Regions from separate parts of the Homo sapiens genome. Here region 2 is linked to region 1. The links come from fine-mapping of genetic effects on gene expression. A gene starts in region 1. The other region holds a variant in brackets. All regions are shown on one strand. Distances are from middle to middle. Region 1 holds the start of FOXD2-AS1 (FOXD2 adjacent opposite strand RNA 1). Region 2 has its middle 17 kb from the start of FOXD2.

Region 1 (11,429 bases):
GCTCTTCTGGGAGAGCCCCATCAGGGGCAAGGGAGTGCAGGCAAGCAGACAGAGCTGGTGACTGCTGAAGTTCACATACATTTATTCAATCGACACCAATGGGAAATAGGCGGCAGACAGATTTTTCTTTTCTTCCACACAGACCATCAGACGATTTCACAGAGCTTCCCCACAGTGGAGAAGTTTAAATCAATGCACACCCAGTGGACAGAGAACGCCGAGAGCAGCGCGCTGTACAGATATTTACACAAAATTATAGGACCCCCTGCCACAGGGTGTGCCCTTGCCCACTCCACCCCCACCTCTCCAGTCCCTGGCCCAGACCCTTCTCTTCCACCCAATCTCATTGCCTTTAGCCACAATAAATATCACAGGGCCTGGGACAGGGTGGAACACTGACAGGGTTGCTGGCCGGAGATGGCTGGACCCAGCCAGCCAAGGGAAAGGAAAGAAATTCCTTTAAAAGCACCCAAACACAAAAGAGAAAGGATTTTCCTCAGTGGAGTGGGATCCAGGGTTTCTGCAGGGAATATAAAGACCCCCTGCTTCACCTCTCCGTTCAGCTCCGCCTGCGTAGACACTGGTTTAGGCTTCAGAGGAAACGAACTTCCTTGGAGAACAGCAAAAAAAAAAAAAAAAAAAAAAAGGTTGAATTTTTCTTTTAAGCACAAAGCAGATAATAGATGTCTTTAAATTATAATATTGGACAAGCAGGGTCTCAACGTTGGGGAAGAAGTGAGAGGGGAAAGGCAGAAAGGGAGACCCTCTGTTGGTGTTTCTGGCGGGATCCGTGGAGCCTGGCCAGGCATCTCTCCCGGAATGTGTTCCCCGAGAGGCGCAGAGGCAGGGAAAAAAACGAAGCCCCCACCCCCCTGCTTTTATTTCTCAAACTGTAAAGAATCTTGGCCTGCGACTTCTTCGCGTAGCCCCGGGCCTGTCGCCCTGAGCGATAGAGCCCGCTTAGTCCCAACTATCTGCGAGATTCTGTGCGTGGAGCCTGAAGTGCCGTGTCACGCGTGCCGGCCCAAGGTCTGGAGACTTCATAAATAGACTCCCTGAGTTCCGCTGGGACCGCAGGAACTCCCGGGAGAGGCTGAGGAGTGCGGACCTAACCGGCCCTGGGCCTGCTGCGGTCAGAAGTGGCAGCCACTAAGGCCGGCGACTTTGCTGGCAAACCGGGACCCTGAGGACAGCAGCGCGTCCCCGGGATGCGAGAGGCGAATGTGGCCAGCAACGGGAGCCAGGGCCGGAGCAGTCAGCATGGCCAAGACCTGGGCTTGGCCCCCAGGACCCGCGGCTGCCGCGAATGGCGGTCCCGGAGAGCCCTCGCCGGCGCCCGGGGGTGCTGCCCCGCCGCCACCGTGGCCCATGATGTGGTCTATAGAGAAGGAAGGCCTCTGCCCTGCCCCGGCGCCCCCGCCGCCTGCACCACCGCCCGCGTCCGTCTTGAGGCCCTGGCGCAGAAGTGCGGTGGGCAGACCCGCCGCGGTGCCGGCTGCGGGAGGACTCAGGGACGCCGCGTAGAAGGCTTTGGCGCAGCCCAGCTCCGCGCCCAGGAAGGCGGGCAGGCCTGCGGGGCCCGGGCCCGGGCCCGAGCCTGAGGCAGGCGCAGGAGCTGGGGCCGATCCCGCGCCTGCGAACACCGAGGCCGTCGGAGGTCCGGGTGGAGGCGCGGCGGCGCGGCCTGGGGGTACCGACAGCTGGCAAGGAGCGGCGGCGGCTGCCGCGGCGAAAGCGAAGGCGTGCGGGTGCGGGTGCGGATGCGGGGCCGGCCCCGGCGGGGGTGCGCCGTAGGCCGGGAGAGCCAGCCCGTAGCCGTAGCCGTAGGCGCCGTAGGCAGCGAAGCCGGGCAGGAAAGCGCCGGGATCCCCCGCCGCCGCGGCCCCGCCACGCAGCAGCAGCTCCGGGTGAGGGTGCGGGTGTGGGTGCGGCGGCGGCAGGGGCTGCCGCTTGAAGCGCTTGCGACGCCGCAGGAAGCTGCCGTTGTCGAACATGTCGGCCGACTCCGGGTCCAGCGTCCAGTAGTTGCCCTTGCCCGGGTTGCCCGGCTCGCGGGGGATCTTGACGAAGCAGTCGTTGAGAGAGAGGTTGTGGCGGATGCTGTTCTGCCAGGCGGGGAACTTCTCCCGGTAGTAGGGGAAGCGGCCGCTGATGAACTCGCAGATCTCGCTCAACGTCAGCCGCTTCTTGGGGCTCTGCAGGATGGCCATGGTGATGAGCGCGATGTACGAGTAGGGCGGCTTCACCAGCGGGCTCCGCGTCGCCGCGCCCCCCGACGGCGGTCCCGGCCCGGGCCCCGCTGCGCCGCGGGCCGCCGCGGCGCCTGGCCCCGGGCTCCCCGCTGCGGCCGCCGCCCCCCGGGACGCCAGAGCGCGGGGCTCGCCGTCCGAGCAGCCACCAGACTCCTCCTCGTCCTCGGCTAAGTCTGCCTCGGCTTCCTCCGCGGGAGGCTCGTGGCCGTGGGGGAGCACGTCCCGGGGGGCGCGGGGCCCGGAGCGAGCTGGGAGCTCCCCCCCGCCGCTGCCGCCGCCCACCACGTCTATGTCTGCGTCGGCCTCGGACAGCGCGGCCGGGGAGCTCTCGGAGGACATGATCTCGCAGCAGCAGCTGCCCAGGGTCATGGTGCCGCTGCCGCCGCCGCCGCCACTCTCCGGCTCCGCTCCGGCAGCGGCTCGGGCTCGGCCGCGCTGCCTCTGGGGCGAGTGCGTTTTGCGCGCGGGCGGGGAGGGGGCGGGGGACTGAGGCAGGCAGGGAGGGGTGTCCCCCGGCTCCGCAGCGCCCCCTGGCGGCCCAGCTCGGCCGCGCTCACCTTCCAGGGCACGACCCGCCGGCGGCCCCCGCCACTACCCCGGGAATCCGAGCTGGGACCCGCCGCTGGGGCGCAACGGAAGGAGCTGAGGCTTTCCCTTACCTGGGCGGGCCTCAGCCCCTAGTCCCCTCGGGGTGGCAGTGGTTGGTGGTGGGGGATTGTCCCTCCCGCCTAGCGGCTGCCTAAGGCGGAAGAGCTGCGGGCTAGGGCGGAGCTCCCTGGGCGGGGTGGGGCGAGGCGACAGGGGCGGGCGTAGCGCCTCCGCTGAGGGACCCGGCGGGAACAAACCGCCGCCGCGGCGGGAGCTGGGCTCGAGTGGCCGGAGGCGGGCCCTTGTCTTCGCCGCCGCTCCTGCACCCTGTGCTCCCTGAAGCCGCCGCCTTCAGAACGCTCAGCCCCTGGATGTTAAGGCTCACTCGGGCGCCAGCCGCAGCCAGGGAAGTGGCGGCGGTCCCCACCCGTCCTCTCCCCAAGGCGGCGCCCGGGCCACCGGGCCGAAGCGCAGTGGGAGCGCGAGGCTGAGACGCCGGGACCCACGCCGCCCCAGCGCGGCCCGCCGGCGCCCACCCGAGCCCGCACGGCTTCCAGCCCGAGGGGAGACGCATTCGAGTGATCACCAGGAGCGAACTTGGCGCCCGCAGCCTTGGGCCTGGGAGAGGTGAGATTGCGGCGGCGCCCTCTCCTCCCTCCGCTGTCGGGCCCGCCACCCCTCTCCGCGCGGAGAGGCCGGGCAGAGCGCCGGCCGCTGTGGCCGCGTTCCCGGGGCGCGGGCCGGTCTACTGCTCCGAGTTTGCCTGTTCTCCGACCCTCTGGATCTCGGCATCCGTTTGTCTCAGTCTCTGTGACTATCTCACTCTCCGTGAGTCTCTGTGGAAACGGCATTTGTCTGGATGTCTGTTCATGGGTCTGGGAATCCGCTTAATTTCTCCCTCCCCTCTCCCTGGCCCCAGTTGCCCTGAGGACTGGACACCCCCCACCTTCCTGGCTCCCAGGGTTCTGGGCCCCACCGACAGGCGGCAGGACCTCCTCCGCCCCCTGCCCGACACCCCCTCAGTGAACCCTGACCTCCACCAAGTGTTGCCTTCATCTCTCAAAAGTCTTGTGCAACTAAGGTTGGCCCTGTGCCTTGTTTCTCGCTAGCCGGGTTCCTGCCCATCCTATTAGACCTCTTTCTCCCCCGGCCTCCCTCCAGGACCCAGAAACAAGCAGCTTCAACACAGATTGGGCCCATTTCAGCCTCTGGGGCACGGAAGGGGAGATGGGCGCTGGACGTGAGCAGGAACTGAGCGGATGCCTGGGCTGCTGCCCCGACAGCGCCGCACAGTGGCTAAAGCTCGGGCGTGCGAGGCCGGAATCCCAGCTGCCTCCGCTGTAGCAAGGCTGTGTGACCCTCATTAGGTGACTTCCCCGCTTCGGAGCCTCAGTTTCCTGGTCTGCATAGTAGTTAAGAGCAGCGACCTTAAGTCAGGCTCCTGGGGTTCCAATCCTGCCTTCACTACTTACCCTATCTGTCACCTTGGGCAAGGTTCTTTGCGCTTTGTTTCTGCCTTTGTAAAAATGAGGCTAGTAACACCTACCTCAGAACTGATGTATAAGTGTAGCCATATTCTAGGCCATTTAGGAAAGGGTACTGAGAACACTTTGCAGTTTCATCTAACAGCAGCCTCCAATCTACGGGATAGCCTGGTGTTAATCCAACTCTCCCATTCCACAGATGGAGCTACAGAGGCCCAGGATAGGGAGAAAGAACTCACCCAGGCTCCTGCAAAGAAATAGAACAGAGTTGGGTTGCAACCCTTTTCACAGAATCCTCAAAATAGAGTTCTTCATCCCCCCAAGGTAAGGGCAGAAAAAAATGGAAGGCAGGTCTGACTACTCATGTCCTTTGAGAGGAAGTCGCCTGGGCCCCCTCTGGGACCTCTGACCAAGGGGATCCATTTAATGTGCTGTTCCAGCATAAACTGTCATTGGAAAAAAGAGAAATCTCGTCCTCAAACCATGGACAGCAAATTGGACAGGGACTAGTAGCCCTGGAATTGGAATTTCCTGGGTGACAGACTGTCCGGGGAAAAAGGTCTTGGAGAGAAGCTTCTTGCATGAGTCCAAGGAAACTCACATACCTAGGGTTGCTAGATTTAGCAGATTTATTTTATCTGGCAACCCTACACATACCTCAAGCTTGCTCTTGACTACATGGATATCTGTCTCACACTCCCAGAACCCCACTCACAGATACCCCACACCATGGACCACACACCAACTCCAACCCAGCTCAACTCTGCTAGTATCTAAACAAGTGGAGAGAAAAACAGTGTTGGCGTCATCCTACTCCATTTCACCTTCTGAATGTCCTCATTTCTTTTTTTTCTTTTCTTTTTTTTTTTTTTTTTTTTTTTTGACTGAGTTTCGCTCTTGTTGCCCCCCTGCTGGAGTAAAATGGCCTGATCTCAGCAGCTCACCACAACCTCAGCCTCCCAGGTTCAAATGATTCTCCTGCCTCAGCCTCCCAAATAGCTGGGATTACAGGCAGGCACCAACATGCCCGGCTAATTTTGTGTTTTTAGTAGAGAGGAGGTTTCTCCATGTTGGTCAGGCTGGTCTCAAACTCCCTACCTCAGGTGATCCACCCGCCTCGGCCTCCCAAAGTGCTGGGACTACAGGCGTGAGCCACCCTGCCCGGCCTGAATGTCCTCGTTTCTAAAACAGCAAATGGGAACCAGTAGCTTCCTTCCTTGCCAGCACTCCCCTGGCTCCCCAGGCTTTGGTCAGGGTGAGACTAGCCAGGGCACTTGCTGCCCAAATTTCCTGCTTCAGAGAAGTTCTACCAAGCAGCTACAGCAGCCAGCCCTTGCCTCTGCCTGGCCTTGCTGCACGTTCACTGCTACTGAGACCTACACTGGGGAAGGGGAGTACAGAATCCCCAGCTTCTGCTCTGCAGGGTTGGGGAGGGAGAATCCAGACCCTTCACATACATACTTTTTACAGGAGCGGAAACTGAGGTCCAGGAGATCATGTTACTTGTCAGGCTTTTGAGGGGCGCTAAGCTGGGTTGGACCTACGTGTCCGGGTTCCTAGCCCAGAACCCCTCTGTTTATCCAAATAGCTGTTTCTCTAACCGAGCTCCTCTCTGTATAGAGGGATTTCTAGTAGCCTCTCCTCCCTTCCAAGGTTCTGGGCCAGTTTGTTTTCAACAGTGTCAGGAGTAAGTGCACTGGGGACTGGGAGAAGGGCCACCGCGGGATTCGGAATTTATTTCGTTTTCTTTGCTTCTTCTGTGACCCTTACTTCTTTCGCCTACCGGCTCAGCCTGTTCGGCGTCTTGCAGCAGTGCCTGCGATCCCGCGTGAGTCCGTCGCTCCCTCCGCGAAAACCTGGACTCTTTCCCAGAAGCCTTGGGCTCCAGCACCATGCCTGCTGCAGCCGCCAAAGAGCGGGAAGCCACAGGCTCTGCGGGTCTTGGTTACAGCGTCTCTGGTCGTGCCGGGCCTCCTTCTGCATCTGTTCCACGGCCCGGCCATCTCCCTCGTGCAGCCCAGAACAATTGGGAGGAAGCGTTGGCGGGCGGAGGGGGATGCCTGTTGGGCTTTTCCACTAGTTACTGAGTGTTTTTTGCGAAGAGTACGTTGCTATCAGTGGCGTCCGGGTCGTCTCTCCCTCTCTTCCTTTTGGTCCCCATAAATGAGCTGTTCTCGGCTCTGGGAAAGAAAAGCCCTCCAGCGATTATGCGGATCTAATTAAGTCAATCAGGAAACTGCCGGAGAGCGGCACTGGCTTGAAGCGGAGTTTGTCCTGAGGCACAGCGGAACGATTGCACGCGGCCCTTTTCAGCGGTTCGAGCTCGGCCAGCGCCGGGCTGCAAACGGAAGCCTGAGCTGGGCTTGGGGAACTACGCCCGCAGATTTCTCTAATTTTATTCACAAAACTGGACACCCTCAGGGAAAGCGGCAAAGCCGGCGCGAGCCTCCTTCCCACTCTGGACCTAGCTGCAGCTCCAAAGCGAGATAGCTGTCTAGCCTCAGCCGGTACAGCTCCCGGCCCCTTTCTCCACCCGGATCTTCGGCTGCTCAGAAGCGATCAGCTCCCTTAGCCCAGGTGGGAGGCGGGAGACTCCAGATCCTGTGACCCGCGGAGGCAGACCTCAGACATGTTCCCCATGCACAGAAATGACTGGGGCTCCAGTGTGTGCACCTTCAACTCTGAAGCCCACCTGCCCACTTCAGGCGCTGGCGCGGAGATAACCACCACGCGTCTGCCGGGCAAAGTTCGAGAGTGAATTTACATCTTCTCTTTCCGCTACTCCTGGCCACTGTCCCCTCCCAGCCCCATCTCCCCCGCCCCCAACCCTGGACTATGTGGTAGGGGACTCGCTTAAGCACCCAAGTACTGCGCGGTTGTTGAGACCAAGGCGAGCTGCGGAGCCTGTGGGCTGTTGTTCGTGGGAAGAGGGTTGCGACCTCAGGAGAGACCGAAAACAGCGCCACTTGAAACCCGCCGGTCCTGAAGATCACAGAGTTCCCGGAGTGGTAGGGAAGGCTCCACGCTCTTGAGAGCAGAGGCGGCCAGGGGCAGTGGGGGACGCTTCCAGGTATGTGGGAAGGAGAACTTCATGTCTAAGTGCGCTCTTGTGGGTTTCTCGGCCAGCTGGGCCGAGCCTCTCTTTCTCTGTCCTCATGTGTCTGTCCTCTGGACAACAGTGGCTCTGTATGGCGGATTGCGACCCTGAGTGACGGGCGCCTGTCTTGCATCCTGTGTCCTGTGTCCTCCCCTCCAGACCTCATGCTTGGTGTCCACAGAGTGGACCCAGGACTGCCTGGAAGGCTTATCATCCAGGCCCGCGACTTCCCCCCAGAGTCTGAAGCCTTGCGACCTGGTCGGGGACGACAAACCTGCTCGGGGTCAACAGCGAGACCCTAGTGGGGAATGAGGATGGGTGAGGGTGCGCCTGGGTTGAGGGTCTGTGACTGTAGCATGGAAAAGGAGTTCATGCAGGGATCGCACTGAGGGACAGCCAAGAATACTCCAGCGGCAGCCTCCCTCCTACCAATTACACGCCGCCTGCTGGCACAGTGGCACCTCGGGAACAGGACGCCCTTCCGGGCCCTGAATTGGGGCAGCGCAGGAGGGAGGGTGCAGAGCCATAGCGACCTGTGTGTACCATAGACATGCACATGCGCTCACCTTCACGTGTAACCCTTCTGAGTCCCAGACAGGGTAACTGGCGAGGCCGTAAGTACCCTCGTGGGGGCGGAAATATTGCCGCGTCCCTGAGTCCTCTGGGCAGATGCAGAGCCGCGTAAGCCTCATAGAAGCAAAGCCAGGGGAACAGTGGGAGCTCTGGCCTCGCGGTGCGGACGCTAGTAATGGATTCCTGGGGAACAGCGACCTCTGGAGGAGCCTCTCATCCACACAGAGTCAGGAACTAAAGGACTGGTTCTGAGACAAAGCACCCTTTCCTCACCCTACTCCCATTCCACCCGCTTGGAAAAGTTATCCAGAGACTTTTAACCTCCGGACTCCACTCTTCGCTTATGTTTGCTTTTTTTTCCAACCTGTACCCACGCTTCAAAATCCCTGCTCCAGTCCTGCCTCTTCCAGAAAGAAGCCTTCTGGCCAGCCCAGTTCCTCTTCCCCTCTTCCTGTTCTGAGCTCATTCTCAGGCCACACTGCACAGCCAACCTGCTTCCTGCCTGCTCTTCTCCAAAAAGACTGTGAATCCACTCCACCCACGCCTTGTGTTGCATGCTGGGCATGCCGTTCCCTGCCCCAACCCACCCCACCCCCCAGTGAATAAAGACTGAAGTTATTCATTCCAAAATTGGACTGTTGATTTTTCAAAGTTAATTTCACCGATGGGGAAATTGAGACCCAGAGAGAGGGATGACTTGCCCAAAATCACACAGCAAACTGGTAGCAGAGGTGGAACTAGAACCCTACACCATTTCCCAGGCCAGGGTGCTCTTCATCTCACCTGGATGGGGAGCAGGTAATTTGGGGAGAACTCACTTTGATGGGTGAGACCTGAATTGAGGTTTCACACTGGAGCGGGGAATGCAGGAGGAAACTGAGAGAGTGGTCATTGCTCCAGGATGAGGCAGGGAGGGCAATGCTGTGCTGGGAGGCCAGACCCTTCTTTCTCCCATCCTCAGCCCAGATCAAGCTACTTGGAAGGACTTCACATTTCAGGGGTTGGCTGCATTTCTTACATCAGCAAGTGGGCAGGGCTAAGGTCTGGGAACAGACTCAACTCTGGAAAATACCACCCTCCCCCATCCACCACCACCACCCAAGGGAAGGAGGAGCTGAGAAACCTCTCCTGCTCATACACTCAGAGGGCACTGCAGAGACCCCAGATCAACAGGAGGCCTTCTGGTGCTTGCAATTCAGTTAGTGAAAAGGTGGAAGTGTGATTTGCATGAGGCTCTAGTGATACCTGCTCAGTAGCCTGAGGCCTTCTCAGAGCTGCATCACTTTCTGTGTATAGAGTCCTTGTCTGCACAGGATACCTGGCAGCCTGGCCCCTACCTGCTTGCCCAGCCCCTACCTCCAACTCCTGTTCTCTACTCACACCTGATTTCCTCTTTCTTCCCTCTTCACCTTTGCAGGTGGCTCACTCTTGCCTGGCTCACTTCTAATCCTTCCTAGTTAATTTCACACATCAAGTTTGTGAGATGCTTTCCCTGACAACACTCCTGCGCTCACCTGACTCCCACCTCTGTGTTCCTGAAGCTCTTAGCTCCATCTGTTTTTGTTACTTGTTTTTCAGTCTGTAGATTTTATTATAGACCAGGAGTCCTCAACCTTTTTGGCACCAGGGTCTGGTTTCATGGAAGACAGTTTTTTCCACAGACCAAGGTGGTGGTGGGCAAATGGTTTTGGGATGAAACTGTTCTACCTCATATCATCAGGCATTAGTTACATTATCATAAGGACCACGCAACAGGCGGGGCATGGTGGCTCACACCTTGTAATCCCAGCACTCTGGGAGGCTGAGGTGGGTGAATCATTTGAGGTCAGGAGTTTGAGACCAACCTGGCCAACATGGTGAAATCCCGCCTCTAGTAAAAATACAAAAATTAGCTGGGCGTTGTAGTGGGTGCCTTTAGTCCCAGCTACCTGGGAGGCTGAGGCAGGAGAATTCCTTGAACCCAGGAGGCAGAGGTTGCAGTGAGCCGAGATTGCACCACTGCACTCCAGCCTGGGCAACAGAGTGAGACTCCAGTCTCAAAAATAAATAAATAAATAAAAAATAAGGAGCACGCAACCTAGATCCCTCACATGCGCAGTTCACAATAGGGTTTGTGCTCCTATGAGAATCTAATGTCGCCACTGATCTGACAGGAGGCGGAGCTCGGGTGGTAATACTTGCTCACCCGCAGCTGACCTCCTGCTGTGTGGCCAGGTTCTTAACAGGTCACCGGTTAGGAACCAGTTAGTGGCCAGGGGGTTAGGGATCCCTGCTTTAGACTGTGAGCTCCTTGAGAACAGGGCTCATTTTGTGTTCATCTTTATCTTTCCTCTTCTGCAAAATGGGGATAATAATTGTACCTACCTCATTGGATTGCTGTAAGGATTAAAAGAGATGATGCACATATAAAGCACTTAGCCTACTACCTGAAACTTTGAAAGATCTCAATAAAGGCCGGGCGTGGTGGCTCACGCCTGTAATCCCAGCACTTTGGGAAGCTGAGGCAGGCAGATCACCTGAGATCAGGAGTTGGAAACCAGCCTGGCTAACATGATGAAACCCCATCTCTATTAAAAATACTAAAATTAGGCCGGGCACGGTGACTCATGCCTGTTATCCCAGTACTTTGGGAGGCTGAGGCGGGCAGATCACGAGTTCAGCAGATCGAGACTATCCTGGCCAACATGGTGAAACCCAGTCTCTACTAAAAATACAAAAATTAGCTGGGCGTGGTGGTGCATGCCTGTAATCCCAGCTACTCGGGTGGCTGAGGCAGGAGAATAGCTTGAACCAGGGAGTCGGAGGTTGGAGTGATCCAAGATCGTGCCACCGCACTCCAGTCTGGCAACAGAGTGAGACTCCGTCTCAAAAACAAAACAAAATACAAAAATTAGCCAGGTGCAGTGGTGGGCACCTGTAATCCCAGCTACTTGGGAGGCTGAGGCAGGAGAATTGCTTGAACCCGGGAGGTGGAGGTTAAAGTGAGCCGAGATCATGCTACTGCACTCCAGCCTGGGCAACAGAGTGAGACTCTGTCTCAAAAAAACAAAACAAAAACAAACCAAAAAAAAACCTCAATAAATGTTTTGCATCATCATTATTAATCACTCTACCTCCTGCCAGGCACAAAGCCTGACACACAGTAGGTGCTCAATTAATGTTAGATATGTGGATATATTAATGAAAGAAAAGAGGAAGGAAGAAAGGAAGGTATGGCATATCTCTCTCTCTGGGACTCCCTATAGAACTCTAGGGAGTTCATCAGTAAATCATCAATGGAATTCTGTATTCACTGGGAACAGAGGTTGTAGCTCAGATCATCAATAGAACTACGTGTTCACTAAGAACAGAGGTTGCTTCTCTCCCATCAGTCCCCATCTTTGAGGGGAGGAGAACATGTCTCCCTCTCAGACAGAGTTTATCCGTGGTTTCTGG
Region 2 (11,429 bases), 20 kb before region 1:
TTAAAACGGGATCTCTAAAAAGGTAGAAGACAGATGAAGCAAAATCTTGATAACTGTTGCATCTAAGTGGTGGGTATACACGGGGCTCATTGTACTGCTCTTTCTACTTCTACATAGGTTTGAAAATGTTCCTAGGAAACAAACGTTCATTCTGTCGCCCAGGCTGGACTGCGTAGTATGATCACAGCTCACTCCATCTTTGAACTCCTGAGCTCAAGCAATCCTCCCACTTCAGCCTTCCAAGTAGCTGAGACTATAGGTGTGCACCACCATGCCCAGTTAACTTATTTTATTTTTGTAGAGAGGAGGTCTCACTATGTTGCCCAGGCTGGTCTCCCACTCCTGGGCTCAAATGATCCTCCTGTCTCAGCCTCCCAAAGTTCTAGGAGTACAGGCTTGAGCCAGGGCACCTGGTCAAGAAATAAATTTCTAAAAAGTGGCCTCAAAAATTCAGAGATACTGCTCCTACTTTTTAAAAACTGTTGAAGCTTTTGTTTGTGATTTAGGTGACTCTTGATTATACCAGACTTGAAACTACCCTCTTTGTGGTATATGCAAAATAAAGATTCTTGTGTGGTTGCAGAAAAGAGAAGGTGGGGGTGAGGTGAGAGGGGAAGAGGGCATGACAAAGTGAGGGAGCACAGCAGAAAGAGATGAGCTTTCATATGAGCTGGACAGGTTCCCATCCCAGCTCCATCACACTCTAGCTGTGTGATGCTGTGGAGGTGTGTGCTACTCTCTGTGCATCTATTTCTTCTGGAAAGTTAAAATATTGCCCCCCATAGGCTTGTTATGAGGCTATAATTAAGTAATAGATGTTGAATATTCGGCACACAATAAGCACTCAAGAAATCCTGACTATTACTACTTTATAAATATCAGTACTTTAAAAAATGGATACATTCAGGAGATTCTTTGCTTTACAAAAGAATTCACCACAGGGTGCCTTTAAGCCCTCAGCCCTGCCAGTGCATTTTAAATGGGATTGAGTTTGCAAACATCCATTTCTCATGACTTTTTCAGAACGCAGCCAAAGTACTAATGAAGGCAGGCGGATCTACAGCAAGAGCTCCCCGGGCACACTCTCTCAGTCTCAGATCCTGTCCAGCAGGATTCTCTGAAAGATTGGAGACTAAAAACGTTTTCTCTGAAAATCCACAAAAACCCACTGGCTGCCCTCTGGGAAGCCTTTTTTCCATGCATATTTGGAAGGGCTGTGGTATCTCCAGCTATGGGTCCAGGCTTATGAGGACAATAGCAATAGCAATAGGCTAACAACGTTACCTAACATTTATTGAGGGCTTCCTATGTGAGAGGTGCTGTGTTAATTCCCATGCATTATCCTGCACAAGGCAATAAAAGCTAATGTCTGCATAACCACAACAAGTGCTTTCAGGTGAAAGAAGTTCTGGTTATTCCTCACAAAAGTCTCACAGGGTATTATGATTAATGTTGTTGTTGTTTCACATCGAGAAACTGAGGCACAGAGTAGAAAAGTCATTTGCCGAAGGTTACCCCCTGTAAATGATGGGTTATTTAGAACCCGTCTGGCTCTGAAGCCCACCCTGTTACAGACTCCCTGCTCCCCATCGCATACCCCCTCCCCAGCAGCACTAGATCCAGCAGAGACAGGACTATAGGGCAGAGGGTCCCTGCAGGAGGCGCTACCCCTCCCTCTATACCCTCCCCATCTCACTTAGCCCTCCACAAGCTGTTGTCAATTGCACTGAAGTATTTACAGCAACCAGCAACCGCTGACACCTCTGCCCACGTGGGCTATAATTTGATGCTCAAGTTGTTAAACAGCCGCTTTCGAGCGCTGAGCTCTTCATACATGAGTGTCTCTCCCAAGAGCCAGGCTAGCTGCCTCTCTACTGCTCCTGAAGGCTTGCACACTTCTGCTGGCTCCAGGCATGCACACATGTGCACACATGCCAAATGCACCATCACACACAGACATCTTCACACACACCATCACCATCACGCAACAATCCCAATTTGCTATTGAGGACACAGCCACCAACACACATGCTATGTATCACAGACTCCCAGACTCACCTAGTTCACACCCCTCTTGTCGTCAGCACGTGAGACACTACAGAGATAATGGCCGTAGATACTCTGTGTAGAGCAGTATTCACGAGTGAGTGATTGCTAGTAATGCCCATCCCAAACAGAGTCCCAGGAAGTATACTCTTCCCGCATAATTATCTATCAGAAAATTACCCACACGCTCAACTCTGCATTAGGGTAACCAGATAAACACTACATATATTTTTTCATTTCCTTGTGCTAAATGTAGCTTTCACTTGGATGCATTGCATTTGTATGTGGCTTCCATCCTGGTATACCTACCTAAACCCCTGACTCCTTATCTATTTGCCAGGGCCTGTACGTGTTGTGGGATGGGGGTCGGGGATTGTGGTGTACATGTGCTCAAACACCAATACATGCCTCTGTGTGTCTGTTTGCACAAAGCAGATCCAGCAATTTGTTGATGGTCCTCTCCCCAGGGAGTCTCTGCGGAGTAAAACTGCCCTCTGCATAACTATCCAAGAGCAAACACATCCCTAAACCAGATTCCAGCCACACACCCCCACCCCATATATAGCAATGGGGGGTCAGAAAGAAGAGAGAAAGCAGAGGATAAGGAAGGAGAATGAGAGGGGGTAAGGGCCATGTGGGCAGAGGAAGAAACTGGGGTCCATCCACCCAGGAGAGAACAAGTTCAGGAACATGTGCAGTCACTGTGAAGATGGCCCAGAGGCTGGGCCCAGAGGCTGTAATCCCCAGCACTTTGGGAGGCCGAGGTGGGCGGATCACCTGAGATCAGGAGTTCAAGTCAGGCCTGGCCAAAATGGTGAAACCCCATCTTTACTAAAAATACAAATATTAGCTGGGCGTGGTGGCAGATGCCTGTAATCCCAGCTACTCGGGAGGCTGAGGCAGGAGAATCGCTTGAACCCAGGAGGCAGAGGTTGCAGTGAGCCGAGATCGCACCACTGCACTCCAGCCCAGGCAACAGAGCAAGACTCCATGTCAGTCTTAAAAAAAAAAAAAAAAATGGCCCAGAGTTGACCAGCTGACAGTCTGAGGAGGATGCAGGTTTCCAGCCCCTCTGGGACCCTCCTGGATCCCCTGCTCTGTGAGGTGCTTTGGAAATGGTGCCTAGGAGGCTCCATGGGGTGCAGGCAACAGAGTGAGCCCCAGCTGAAGAAGCCCTGCACATCCGCTTTCCTATGGAGGTTTGGGACTGTGCAAGACAAGGAGATTCAGACTAGGCACAGAGATAGGCTAGAAAGATAAATGGGGAAAGAAAGAGCAGGAATAGCAAAGGAGGGGAAAAGAATGTCTGAATAGGATGGATGGGAAGACTCAAGCCCAAGGCAGATTCAGAGCTACGCTCAGAGATAAACGACAGTAACTGTTTCTCACTGCAAGAGCCATCGATGAAAGGACTCAGGGCAGAGGGATCTCTGCTGCAGCTTTAGCAGGCCACTGATAAAAGGCAGGTCCAGCCGGGCGCGGTGGCTCACGCCTGTAATCCTAGCACTTTGGGAGGCCGAGACGGGCGGATCACGAGGTCAGGAGATCGAGACCATCTTGGCTAACACGGTGAAACCCCATTTCTACTAAAAATACAAAAAATTAGCCGGGCATGTTGGCAGACGCCTGTAGTCCCAGCTACTCGGGAGGCTGAGGCAGGAGAATGGCGTGAACCTGGGAGGCGGAGCTTGCAGTGAGCCGAGATGGCGCCACTGCACTCCAACCTGGGGGACACAGCGAGACTCCGTCACAAAAAAAAAAAAAGGCAGGTCCTGCCCTGTGACCCTCTCAGCAGTTCGGGACAGGAACCATCCCAGGGGCCTACAGCAGCAGAGCAGGAGAGGAGTGAGCATACCTCCCAGAAGACCTGCAAAAGGATCTGACTGGGCTCCCCAGGACAAGCAGGAAGCCAAGGGTAGAGAATAAAAAGCAAACCTCTGAGTGGGGATTGGGGAGCACCTGGACCCATGGATTCAGAAGTTCAAGTTCTGATGCTATTTATGGTGCAAACCCACAGCAGCCACAGAACTTCACCAAGTCTCATCTGGAAAATAGTGGCTACAAGTGCCCATCTCAAGGCACTGTGAGGACTCAATAAGGCAATAAGGGTAGAAATGCTTTCTAGCAATTTCTGTGAATCTCCTTGTTAATCAAGATTGCCAGGAGGGGCCGTGTGCAGTGGCTCATGCCTGTAATCCCAGCACTTTGGGGGCCAACGTGGGTCAATTGCATGAGCCCAGGAGTTCAAGACCAGCCTGGGCAACATGGTGAATCCCCATCTCTACAAAAAAATACAAAAATTAGCTGGGTGTGGTAGTACATACCTGTGATCTCAGCTACCCGGGAGGCTGAGGTGGTAGGATCACCTGAACCTGAGGAGGTTGAGGCTGCAGTGAGCTATGAATGCACCACTACACTCTAGCCTGGGTGACAGAGTAAGACAGACCCTGTCTCAAGAAAAAAAAGATTGCCACCCAGGAGGGGAGAAGTCACAAGTCACAGGGTGGAAATGACAGTGAGTAGCTCTCCATCAACATGGAGATTCTATTATTATTAATACTCATGTATGCTTATGTGTCCTGCCTAATTCCACAAATAAGTTCATTCCAG[A/T]TATAAATGTGATCAGGCAGTATTTGAGTATTTGTCTTTCTGTGTCCAGCTTATTTCCCTTAACATAGTATTCTCCAGATTCATCCATGTTGTCGCAAATGACAGGATTTCACTCTTTTTCATGACTGAATAGTATTCCATTCTGTATTTATACCATATTTTCTGTGTACGTGTGTGTGTGTGTGTGTGTGTGTGTGTTTTGAGACAGTCTTACTCTGTTGCCTAGGCTGGAGTGCAGTGGTGTGATCTTGGCTCACTGCAACCTCCACCTCCCAGGTTCAAATGATTCTCGTGCCTCAGTCTCCCAAGTAGTTTGGACTACAGGTGCACGCCACCATGCCTGGCTACTTTTGTATTTTTAGTAGAGAAGGGTTTCACCATGTTGGCCAGGCTGATCTCGAATCCCTGACCTCAGGTGATCTGCCTGCCTCGGCCTCCGAAAGTGCTGGGATTGCAGGCATGAGCCACCGTGCCCAGCCAATACCATATTTTCTTTATCCATTCATTCATTGTTGGACACTTAGATTGATTCCATATCTTGACTATTGTGAATAATGCTGCAATAAACATGGGGATGCAGATATCTCTTCAGCATATTGATTTCATTTCCTTTGGATGTATACCCAGTAGTAGGATTGCTGTATCATATGATAGCTGGATTTTTAATTTTTTGAGGAACCTCCATGCTGTTTTCCGTAATGTTGTACTCCACAAAGGATTTGAGTTGGCTGAGAGGTAAAGATTATTGACAGACTGGCCAGGCGCGATGGATCACACCTATAATCCCAGCACTTTGGGAGGCCAAGGCAGGTGGATGATGAGGTCAGGAGATCGAGACCATCCTGGCTAACATGGTGAAACCCAGTCTCTACTAAAAAAAATACAAAAAATTAGCTAGACATGGTGGTGGGTGCCTGTAGTCCCAGCTACTTGGGAGCCTGAGGCAGAAGAATGGCATGAACCCAGGAGGCGGAGCTTACAGTGAGCCGAGATTGCGCCACTGCACTCCAGCCTGGGGGACAGAGCCAGACTCCGTCTCAAAAAAAAAAAAAAGATTACTGACAGACTCTCTGAAGGACAGATGGATAGACAGAGGAATGAGGACAGAGGCAACAAGAGGGAAAGAGATATCCAGGGAAAGATCATCATTCATTCAGATGTTCAATGCAACATTTATTTAATGAGCACCTATTATGTGTCAGGTACTGTTTAAGTCCTGGTTATGATCAGGGAATTCAGGTGACTTTACCCAGATTAAAGCTATGGCAAATGTGACTTGATTCCTCTACCTTCCACACACACTCATGTGAACCTCTTTCATGCACCCATGTGCTACCATTCTCAAAGAGGATCATTTCTAATGGAATCTGGTGACGAGAATGAGGTGGAGATGGAAAAGCGTTGTCTATGGAGCAGGTCTCCATCTGGGGATCCCACAGCCTGCTGGGAAGGCTGTTCTGAGTAACCTCTCTTCATAGGGTAGTACATGGGGTGTGTAGGAGCCAGAGAGGGGAGAGGTGTACTTGGCTCTTGGCTCTAGGAGCCACTCAGCACAAATCAGAGCCCAGACATCTGTGTGCCACTTGAACTGGACTTACTAGACTTGAAATATCTCTGTCTTCCTCTCTCCTTTTCAAGACATCATGATGTCCTCTGTGTTTGTCAACAAAGCTAATCAGTCTCTCACCTGGATCTTTTTTTTAATCTTTTTTTTTTTTTTTCTTGAGACGGAGTCTCACTCTGTCACCCAGGCTGGAGTGTAGTGGCGTGGTCTTGGCTCACTGCAACCTCCGCCTCCTGGGTTCAAGCGATTCTCCGGCCTCAGCCTCCTAAGTAGCTGGGACTACAGGAGTGTGCCACCACACCCGGCTAATTTTTGTATTTTTAGTAGAGACGGGGTTTCACTATATTGGCCAGGCTGGCCTCAAACTCCTGACACTGTGATCCACCCACCTTGGCCTCCCAAAGTGCTGGGATTACAGGTGTGAGCCACCATGCCCGGCCTATCTGGATCTTTAAAACACTGAATGGGGCCAGGCGCAGTGGCTCACACCGGTAATCTCAGCACTTTGGGAGGCCAAGGCAGGTAGATTACCTAAGGTCAGGAGTTCAAGACCAGCCTGGCCAACATGGCAAAACCCTGTCTCTACTAAAAATACAAAAATTTGCCAGGTGTGGTGACATGCACCTGTGACCTCAGCTACTCAGGAGGCTGAGGCATGAGGATTGCTTGAACTCGGAAGATGAAGGTTCCAGTGAGCTGAGATCGCGCCACTGCACTCCCACTTGGGTGACAGAGCAAGACTCCATCTCAGAAAAAAACAAAACAAAAACAACAACAATAAAAAAAAACACTGAATGGAACAGAAGACTCAAGGAGACTCTACATGGCAGTCAACGTTGTGCAGTCATCAAACCCCATTTCCCTTTCCTCCTGCACATACAGCAAGACTTCAATTCTTACTCTACCTTACAGTTAGGTGGAGCCAAATGACTGGGTTCTGGCCAAGGAATGTGGTCAGAAGTGACACTTGCCACCTGCACCAATTTTTTTTTTTTTTGAGACAGAGTTTCACTCTTGTTGTCCAGGCTGGAGTGCAATGGTGCAATCTCAGCTCACTGAAACCTCCACCTCCCAGGTTCAAGCAATTCTCCTGTCTCAGCCTCCCGAATAGCTGGAATTACAGGTGCATGCCACCATACCTGGCTAATTTTTGTATTTTTAGTAGGGACAGGGTTTCATCATATTGGCCAGGCTGGCCTCGAACTCCTGACCTCAGGCGATCTGCCCGCCTCAGCCTCCCAAAGTACTCGGATTATAGGCATGAGCCATCACGCCTGGCCATCACAAAAGTTTTAAACGATTTTGATAATTTAATCTCAATATAATTGGCTTATTTCATAGTCCTGTAAATTTGATTTCATGCATTAAAAAATATTTATTTTTAGGTATCCATAAGCTGATCATTAATCTACCTAAGGGGGTCCATGGTACAAAAAATAATAATAATAATAAGAGCGCTTCCCCTACAGAATGATGGAACCCCTAGATGGAAGGCCATTTGGTCTCTGAGTGACTATGTAGAACAAAGCTTCCCCCCATCTCACTACCACCACCAGTGATCCAATATTTAGACTACGAGATGAGTGAAAAATAACCTTTATTTGTTCAACAACTGAGAACTTGAGGACCATTTATAATGCAGAGGGATTCTATTATGTGACTACAGGAAGAGTACAGGGAAGACCTCTCAGCTTAAATTAACTTTGAACTCACTCAGCTCTCCCAAATGCCCTCGCTCATAAAGGATGAAATGCCCTAGATGTCTTCCCCTCACACCCAACCTTCTATGGTCCAAATTCTCCCCAACTTTCAAGGCCCAATTCAAATGCCACTTCCTCCAGGAAGTCTCCTGTGCCTGTTCTCCACTCACAAAATGTATCGCCCCTGAATTGAAGCACCAAGAGCTATTAACTTCAGACTATGAGCTTTCCCAGGGAAGAAAGTTGCATAAATTCCCTTCCTGTCCCCAAACCTACACCCCACACCCACAGTGGGCCTCTTCCAGGGATACCCAGCCATAGTAGGATCAGTAAATGTTGCATGGGAGGCAAGAGGGTAGTCAGAAAATGGTTTGATTCAGCTCTATCCCCCAACGGCCTGGCCCAGGTCCCCACAGATTATGTGTGTTTAAGGAGAATGTATGATACAAGTGGGGCTGGGGAAGTACTAGTGTTTTCCCACATTAGGGCCTCAATCTCCCTTCTCTAAAACTACCTCCACCCAAGCTGGATTTTCAACCAATGTATATCATCCTCCAAGTCTTTGTAGTTTTGGTAGCCAGACAAGGCCAGAAGTCATGAAGGGGTTAAAAGAAACATGGGTCCTCTCCAACCCTGGAGAATGATACCTCCTCAGGGGTCCCAGGCAGAGTCAGCCTCTTTGTCCCACACCCTTGAAAGCCACTCCCTCTGCTCAACCCCTCCCTTCTTCTCCCGCCTCTGCCCTATCCCCAACAAGCACTTGGAGCCTCTGTCCTTGGGCTGGGAGCACTCATCTTCTCTGTGCAGCTCTAGAGAGCTGGGGCCTGCTCCCTGGACAGCTGCTGCACCATGGGAGTGCAGGGATGGTGGGGAGACAGCTCTCTAGCCCCCTCCCTCAAGGTATGACTCCTCCAGTCCAAGCTCCTTTTGTCTTGAGAACGGAGGTGCCCTGAGCTTGAGTACAGGCTGCCTCTCTCCCTTTGGGTTATCTTGCAACACTGGGGCTCAGGGGCCCCCAGCCACTGCTGTCCTGGACACTGTTCCCCCACTCCCCCTTCCCCACCACACCAGGCACCAGAGATCATTATTGCTCTATGAAGGGACATATTTCTGAATCACATTAACTCCACTTGTCTTTGGGCAATGCAACACATTTTTGGGGCCCTTCTACACATGCAGTTGATTCATTCTTTCATGTTCCAGGCCTTGTGCTGTGTACTGGAAAAGATGAGGGAGGGGGAACAGCAAGCAGAAAATAATACATCACAGTAAGTTCTTTAAAAGTATGAAAAGTCTTAGGATTGGGAGGCTGATGTGTGAGGATTGCTTGAGCCCAGGTGTTTGAAACCATCTTGGGCAACATAAGGAGACCCCCATTTCTACAAATAAATAATTAGCCATGCGTGGTGGCTAGCCTGTAGTCCTGGCTACTCAGGAGGCTGAGATGGGAGGACCGCTTGAGCCCGAGAAATCAAGGCTGTAGTGAGCCATAATCATGCCACTGCACTCTAGCCTGGGTGACACAGCAAGACCCGGTCTCCAAAAAAAGAAAAAAAAAAAATTCTGTGGGAGTGGGGAGATGCTAGTGAAGGCTTGGTGGGGGAGGTGACCCTGAGTAGGGAGTGAACCAGGTAGAAAGTGGAAGAAGGAACAATCAGATAATCAGACCCATGAACCACAGAATCACTCTGGCTGTTGGGCTCATTAAAGAGTAGTCTCCTAGAATTATTCTTTTAATCAATGACTATTTATTGCACCAGACAGCATGCTGGATAGAGATCTCAGTGTGACTGTGGCCTTCAGTGAAAAAGAAAGAGAGGGGGAGAGAGAGAGAGATCTCAGAACTGAAGCCATCTCATATCCCAAAGCCAGCCTGACTTCCACATCGTGTTCTTGAGGGGCAGACTGCCTCTTCCAAATCCAAGGACCTGGGGAGAGGAAGTTGCTCTGGGTGCTGGAATGAAGGGTGAATCCCTTCTGGTGACATTGGAGGAGGGCTGCTCAAATGGAAATCTGTGATGGATGATGACACACTGGGAGGGGCTCCTGGCTCCCTATAGCTGCCATGACCAGCAAGTCCAGCGGCCAGAGGTCTGTTGACTGAAATCGGAGTCAAACAGGATCAAGTATGGGGTGATGAGTTCTCCCCACAGCAGGCTCCAGAGCTGGGGAGGAATCCCCACCCCATGACATCCTTCAGCTATTCTCTCTCAAGGCCGTCGGCATTCTTCCCTCTGCGCCCATATTACAGCTTTAATTCCACATGCATTTGTGTTTCTTTCTGTCCTCCACTAGATTGTCACCATCCTGAGGACAGGAACCACATCGGTTTTGTTCACCACTGTATCCCCAGTGCAGAGGAGAGGACCAGGCACAAAGTGAGTAATAAAAGAATGGTGAAATGAATTGAGACTGACAAGGACATTCCAGCAGATGAGGGCAGTCTGGTGATAAGTTCATTTCATTTTACAGAGAGGGAGAGTAGGCCCAGGAAGATGGAGTGGTGCAAAAATAAAGCCGCCTACATATGTGGAGAGGGTGTGGGGGTGGCAAGGCCGGGCTCTGGGGTCAGGAGCACAGACAACAGAAAAGTACTCACAGTCCTGGCCCCCAAGATGCCCCAGCCTCCATAAAATCAGTTCCCTCCCCACAACTCAGCCACCTCCTCCTTGAGGTTGTGAACTCCTCCTCCCAGAGGTGCAGGGTGTGCCCAGCCACGGCAGGCTTCTCTCCAACCAGGTGTCCCAGAACTGCCCCCAAAGGGCTACGGGGAGAGGAATAAAGCAGCTACCAGTTTGGGGGTGGAATAGGGCATCCCTGCTGCGGCGCAAGAGCTACAGGGACCATAACAAGGACTGCAAGCCTTAGCACCTAATCTATGCAGGATAAGCCTTAAGAGGGAGCGCACAAAGCCAATCTTGGTAGCGCAAGCACATCCCGGTTAGCACAGGATCTGCCTCTGTCAGTTTAAGGTCATCTCTGTTAGCACAGGGTCAGACCCACTCAAAGCAGGGTCACCCCCGGTGGTATAGGGTCATCCCTTTTTAGCGCTGGGTCGTCCCGCATAGGAGCAAGATCGTCCTAGTTTGGAGAGTCAGCCTCTAACGGAGGGTCAGCGCAGAGCGGGGCGGGGTGGCCGGGTGAGCGGAGCGTAGGGTAGTCTCTGCCAGCCAGGGTGAATCCTGGTCAGCGGAGGGTAAGCTCCCGGTACTTTGGGGCCAGCGGCGCCCCCAAGTGGCTGGGCCCGTCCTGCGCTCAGGATCCGGTGTCAGGGAGGCTTTCAGGAATCTCGGTCCGGAGCCCTCCACCCTGGCTTCGCTCACTCGAACTGGGAGTCTCGCCAACTCAGTCCCGGGCCTCGCTCTTCAGAAATTGCTTCTGCTTCTGAATATTCTTTGTACGCATGTTTGAGACTTTTTCTGTTCACAGGATGCAATTTGGGTGCGCGATTGCATCTGAGACCCAGAATCCGAGATGTAGGCAGAGAGGAGAACTTCGACTGGAAAACT

The links. PIP is the estimated chance that this variant, and not a neighbour inherited with it, causes the effect.
Region 2: its variant is fine-mapped to the expression of FOXD2-AS1 in blood mononuclear cells (TOPMed, PIP above 0.99).

Annotation. Positions count from the first base shown.
Region 1 is chr1:47,429,328-47,440,756 of GRCh38, reverse strand. FOXD2-AS1 (FOXD2 adjacent opposite strand RNA 1) reads left to right here and starts at 6,116. Exons shown (of 1, transcript NR_026878.1): 1 at 6,116-8,624. It overlaps FOXD2 (forkhead box D2), which reads right to left and starts at 2,713. Exons shown (of 1, transcript NM_004474.4): 1 at 66-2,713. The coding sequence starts at 2,621. The coding sequence ends at 1,134. LINC01389 (long intergenic non-protein coding RNA 1389) reads left to right here and starts at 3,440. Exons shown (of 5, transcript NR_126355.1): 1 at 3,440-3,467. RefSeq lists enhancers at 526-1,295, 6,116-6,631 and silencers at 2,484-2,663, 2,694-3,593, 4,074-4,233, 9,033-9,142.
Region 2 is chr1:47,449,820-47,461,248 of GRCh38, reverse strand. No RefSeq gene overlaps it. Among named protein-coding and RNA genes, the nearest start is that of FOXD2, 17 kb to the right of the region's middle. The variant A/T (reference allele first, on the strand shown) is at 4,657.